Regions from separate parts of the Homo sapiens genome. Here region 1 is linked to region 2. The links come from fine-mapping of genetic effects on gene expression. Tissue or cell type: whole blood. Region 2 holds a variant in brackets; the other region holds the start of a gene. All regions are shown on one strand. Distances are from middle to middle. Region 1 holds the start of LINC02757 (long intergenic non-protein coding RNA 2757). Region 2 overlaps LRRC32 (leucine rich repeat containing 32).

Evidence for each region. PIP is the estimated chance that this variant, and not a neighbour inherited with it, causes the effect.
Region 1: it holds the start of LINC02757, and the variant in region 2 is fine-mapped to the expression of LINC02757 in whole blood (INTERVAL, PIP above 0.99).

The regions. Positions count from the first base shown.
Region 1 is chr11:76,628,885-76,631,896 of GRCh38, reverse strand. It overlaps LINC02757 (long intergenic non-protein coding RNA 2757), which reads left to right and starts at 1,475. Exons shown (of 5, transcript NR_187244.1): 1 at 1,475-1,706. RefSeq lists enhancers at 1,298-1,592, 2,051-2,410.
Region 2 is chr11:76,657,463-76,659,962 of GRCh38, reverse strand. It overlaps LRRC32 (leucine rich repeat containing 32), which reads left to right. Exons shown (of 3, transcript NM_001128922.2): 3 at 1-2,439. The coding sequence ends at 359. LRRC32-AS1 (LRRC32 antisense RNA 1) reads right to left here. Exons shown (of 3, transcript NR_199061.1): 2 at 269-355. Among named protein-coding and RNA genes, the nearest start is that of LRRC32-AS1, 1.7 kb to the right of the region's middle. The variant C/T (reference allele first, on the strand shown) is at 1,094.

The DNA of each region.
Region 1 (3,012 bases), 28 kb after region 2:
AGTTTGAGACCAGCCTGGGCAACATGGCAAAACCCCATCTTCCATGAAAAAAAAAAAAATACAAAAATTAGCCAGTGTGGTGGCACATGCCTGTAGTCACAGCTATTAATACTTGGGAGCCTGAGGTGGCTGAATCACTTGAGCCTGGAAGGTGGAGGTTGCAGTGAGCCGAGATCACACCACTGCACTCCAGCATGGGGAACAGAGTGAGACAGTGTCTCAAGACAAAATAAAAATAAAAAATAAGGAGAGACCAGACTCAGTTGCTCACACCTGTAATCCCAGCACTTTGGGAGGCTGAGGTGGGAGGATCACTTGAGCTTAGGAGTTTGAGACCGGCCTGGGCAACATGGCGAAACCCTGTCTCTACAAAAACTACAAAAAATTAGCCAGGCATGGTAGCGCATGCCTGTGGTCCCAGCTACTCAGGAGGCTGAGGTGGGAGGATCACTTGAGCCCAGGAGGTTGAGGCTACAGTGAGCCAAGATCATGCCACTGCATACCAACGTGGGTGACAGAGTGAGTTAGACCCTGATTCAAAATAAAAAAAAAAACCACCCCCTCCCCCCCCAAAAAAGAGAGAGGAAGTAGAAAAGATTGAAAGAGATTTAAGAGAAAACGATCAAATGCAATGTATGGAACTTGTGTAGATCCTGATTTTGAACAAATCAACTTTAAAAGATCTGTAAAAGATCTTTGTTAGACAATGGGGAATTTTTTTATTTGGAAGACAGCTGGCCTTGAACTCCAGGGCTCAAGTGATCCTCCTGCCTCAGCCTGCCAAAGTTCTGGGAGTAATTATACTTAGAAGCATGATTTGGAGTAATCTGGAGTAATCACGCTTACAAGTGTGAGCCACCACGCCTGGTTTATTGGGGAAATTTAAACACCACTATATACTATGATAATAAAAAATTATTATTAAAAATGTAGGCAGGATAATAGTTTCTGGCCATGCCTTTATCTTTTAGAAATACAGACTGCAATATTTATTTTGAGACAGGGCCTTGCTATGTTGCTCAGGCTGGTGGTGAACTCCTGGCCTCAAGTCATCTGCCCACCTCAGCCTTCCAAGTTGCTGGGATTTATAAGCATGAGCCACTGCGCCCAACTCCTTGTAGTATTTGTGGATAAAATTATCTGATGTTTAAATTTGCTCTGAGTAATCCAGTGGGGAGGAGTTGGGGGATAGAAATGAAACAAGAGTGGCCCTGAGTCGGGGAGGGTCGAAGCTGGGTGAGGAATACACAGTAGTTTTTGTACTATTTTTGTTGTGTGTTTGAAATTTTCCACAATAAAATGTCTTTGCTGCTGTCAAGGAGGTGGGGAGGAAGACCTAGACGTTCCCTCCAAGGCTGGGGTGGGGGAAGGGAGATCGGGCCGTGTGAGCTTTCCTCAGGAGTGAGCAAAAACAGGAACGTGCCTGCAGAGGGAGGAGTTCCCAAAGAGGAAACGGCGCAGGAACAGCAAATGCAGAGAGGATGCACACTCTGAAGAGGGCAGGCAGCTTCTGCACCGAGGGAGCAAAGGGGCGTGTCAGGGGCAGCTGCTGGAAGGAGGCGCAAGCACCACGGAGAGTCTGGGATGCCCAGCCAAGGAGCCCTGGAAGGGTTGCCCTGGGGACTGACACTGTGGGCTCTGTGTTTTAGCCAAGTCACCCAGGCAGCTGAACAGAAGATGGACTGGAGGGAGAAGCCTGGATGTAGGTAGGGAGGCCTGAGCAGTGGCCAGGTATTTCCTGGACTGGGGTCCTGGAGAAGACAAGGTGGCCTGAGCCAGGGAGTGGCCTGTGATGGACTGCAGGAGACAGCTATGAGTGCTGCTGCCAGGAGGAGGGTGCTGGGAGGGAGGAGTGCAGTGAGACCCGTTTGTGGCCTAGGCAACTTGGTGGATGTTGGTGCCACTATTAAGATAGGTTGAGAGGGCAAGTCAGGCCCCTTCATCTAGAGCCCTGGGCTGGGAGACAGGGGCCTGGGATCTGGCCCCAGCCCTGCTGTCTGGCTGTGGAACCCAGGGCATGTCTCTACCCCTCTCTGACCTAGGGGTCCCCATCTCTAAAGCAAGGGCTAGGAGCCTCAGATCAGAGGTTCTCCGAATCTGCCCCGGGTCAGATCTGTGCCCAGCCCACACGTGCACCCTTCTTGCCTGCGAAGGGCTCACGAGTTCTCATCTTGCGTCACTGAAAATCCAGTGGTGTGATGTCAATGGCATTTCCCTTCAGAAAAAGGAAATGAGCTTAGCAAGCGTGTTACCAGGAAAGGAAAGTTAGTTGGGCCCCACCCTCTGCAGCCCCATGCTCCCCGCACACAGCAAGCAAGGCCCCTCTGCCTGGGGCTGGGGACAGGACCCAGAAATGTCACAGTTCAGATACAGGCACCAACACAACAGCCTTGACTTCCAAGCAGGGCTGGGCTGCCCTCAGCAGAGTCAGCAGCTTCTCTGGCTCCCATGGCCTGGACCCTGGCCACACTCGGAGACTGAGGTCACAGGTAGCTCCAGGGTCTCATCAAACATCAGCAAGGCCCAAAAGCTGAGCTCTTTATAGCCAGGAGACTGCGACCCAGACAGGAGAAGGGGCCTGGCACAGGACACAGAGCCAGTCAGAGGACAACCCAGGCACAGGCCACATGGCTCTGGGGAGTCAGGTGGTCCCTGAAGGCCTGTCTTGCTACAGAGCTCCCAGAATGCCCCATTCCTGGTAGATGTTCCCAGAAAGTCCCTCTCCAATTCCAAATGTTAAGTGCCTTTACTAAATGAAACCACTCCCTGACACTTAGCTTTTGACCATCTAAACATTCCTTAAAATGAACTATGAAGATGAAATGAAAACCAGTGTCAATCTATCCAATACAATTGCTATATACTTTGGAAAAAATGAATAGTAAATTGGTAAGTTTGGTATATTTGGCAAATTGGTCATTTGAAAACCTGATCAGTTGGCAAGCTGGTCATCAAGCAGATCCATTTTTAGGAATTTGACCTAGAGCCTCCCACAGACCCCACCAACCAGGC
Region 2 (2,500 bases):
GAAACAACAGCTTCAGCCTCCTGCCAGGCAGTGCCATGGGTGGCCTGGAGACCAGCCTCCGGCGCCTCTACCTGCAGGGGAATCCACTCAGCTGCTGCGGCAATGGCTGGCTGGCAGCCCAGCTGCACCAGGGCCGTGTGGACGTGGACGCCACCCAGGACCTGATCTGCCGCTTCAGCTCCCAGGAGGAGGTGTCCCTGAGCCACGTGCGTCCCGAGGACTGTGAGAAGGGGGGACTGAAGAACATCAACCTCATCATCATCCTCACCTTCATACTGGTCTCTGCCATCCTCCTCACCACGCTGGCCGCCTGCTGCTGCGTCCGCCGGCAGAAGTTTAACCAACAGTATAAAGCCTAAAGAAGCCGGGAGACACTCTAGGTCAGTGGGGGAGCCTGAGGTACAGAGAAGAGTGAGGACTGACTCAAGGTCACACAGTGATCCGGGATCCCAGAACTCTGGTCTCCAAATTACAGCCCAGGACACCTTTCTCTGCCGCCTGCTGCATCAGTGGGTGACCCCCTTCCCGGGCTGCACTTTGGGTCCAGCTGTGGAAGCCAGAAGTTGGGCGGTTTCAGGGACAGCCGAGAATAATGTTGACCTGTCAGATCAACAAATCTTCACTGAGCATGTATTTTGTGCCACACCCTGCTCTGGGCACTGGGAATGCTGGGAAATGAGATACATTCCCGCCCTCAAGAATCTCCCAGTCTGGTAGGAGAGAGTGCTGCAGAGCCACGTGGCCGCCACGCAGTGTGCTTAGGGCCTGAGGTGTGAAAGCCCAGGGCTCCAGAGCTCGGCAGGCCCCGCTGGTTTGGTGCGGTGAGTCCTGCCCCGGCTGTGCCAGGGTGAGGGAGGGCCAAGCCCAGGAGGATTTGTCTGAGACATTTCCAAGCAGACTGTTTGTCACGTCTTCTGAGAATGACTTTCAGTCTCTCTGAAAATGAAAAGCTTAGGACCAGAAGAGAGAATTGGAGCTGTACGAGTGTGTCTCGGATCTGGTGTTGTTAGGTGGGCCACGGCGGCTCCAGCAGGGTCTGGTTAAGGGGTCCAGCCCAGCACTGGACCATTCCGTCTCCTGCTCTGGACTTGCC[C/T]TCTCCCTTCCTGGCACTCTCATGTTGCATACCCTGACCCCAGTGCTGCTCTAAGCACCGTCCCTGCCCAGCCCCACTTCTCCATCGCAGCCCCACCTTGGCTGCTGAGCCAGGAGCTAAAACCTTAGATATCTGGTTCTGTTTTGCACCCAGCTTGGCAGATGTGGATTTGAATCCAAGCCTTGTGTCTGCCCCTATGTGACAGCTCTATATTTTATCCCCGTTTTATAAAAGAGGAAACTGAAGTTCTGAAAATCTCCTTCCAGGGCCCCAGCTAACTAATGCCATAGGTGAGATTCAAACCTTCATCCTTCTGTCTCCAGGGCCTGATCTTTACCACTGCAGGGGCTGCAGGCCGTTAAGTGGACAGGAAGTGGCCCCACATAGCCCGAGCAGGGTCTGGAAGCATCCTGTGCTGTGCACACCTGCTCTCTCCTCTCTCCCAGGCAGGCAGCTGCAGGCGCTCTCCTCCTTCTCTGCCTGTTTCCCTCCTCCCTTCCTTTCCACCCTGGTGTGGGTTCTCCTGTTCTCTCTGTGCTCTTGCATTCTCTCATTCCCTTTTCCTCTATTGAGCAGAGCCTGGAGTTTGAGACTATGGAATCCAACCTCCCCATTGCACAGATGGGGAAACTGAGGCTTAGGAAGAGAATGAAACTTGTGGAGAGCTTATACAGAGCCTCTGGGGGAAAAAAGAGCCCTTATTTGTGGGGTGAGATTGGGGGTTGGACCAGAGTGATGTCCTCTCTCAGCTATCACATCACAAGATAATGCTGGCTCCAAACTTCCTTTCTGTGCCTCATCATGCAAGGATCTTTTTTCCCTCTTACAAAAACAGGTAAAAAGCCTCACCCAGATGACCCCCATCCCTCATACCATGGAGTCATGAGCTGTCTGGGAAGAATGGACGTGCTGGGACCAACTCAAGACCTTGTTTTGCTGTCTTCATCATCTTACCTGTGCTTGGCCCACAGTCTGGCTCATGATGTGGGCTCAGTAATGTGCGAGAAAGTGAAAATGCCACTCTCTCCACCCCATTTTACAGAGGAGAACACCAAGGCCCAGAGGAAGTTAAGGGAGAGTCAATGGGCAGAGCCAGGGCTAGGCCCTGGTGGTGTGTGGAGCACCCAGGCAGACCCAGTCCTGGTTGGGATCACACCCACGGGTGCTACTGCACGTAACACTCCTCCTTAGGCCTGGAGGCCAAGGTGTGGGTCCCCACGCCTGATCTTTGAAAACACTACACAGGGCTGCTGTCACTTCCCAGGGCCCAGGCCTCAGCCCAGGCCTCGGGACCAACTCTTTGTATAACCTACCTGAATGTATTAAAAACTAATTTTGGAGAAGCAGTGTGGCTGCCAGCTTCCTCTTTGCAATCCGCTTCATTGCGTCCACTAGAACCCTGCCGCT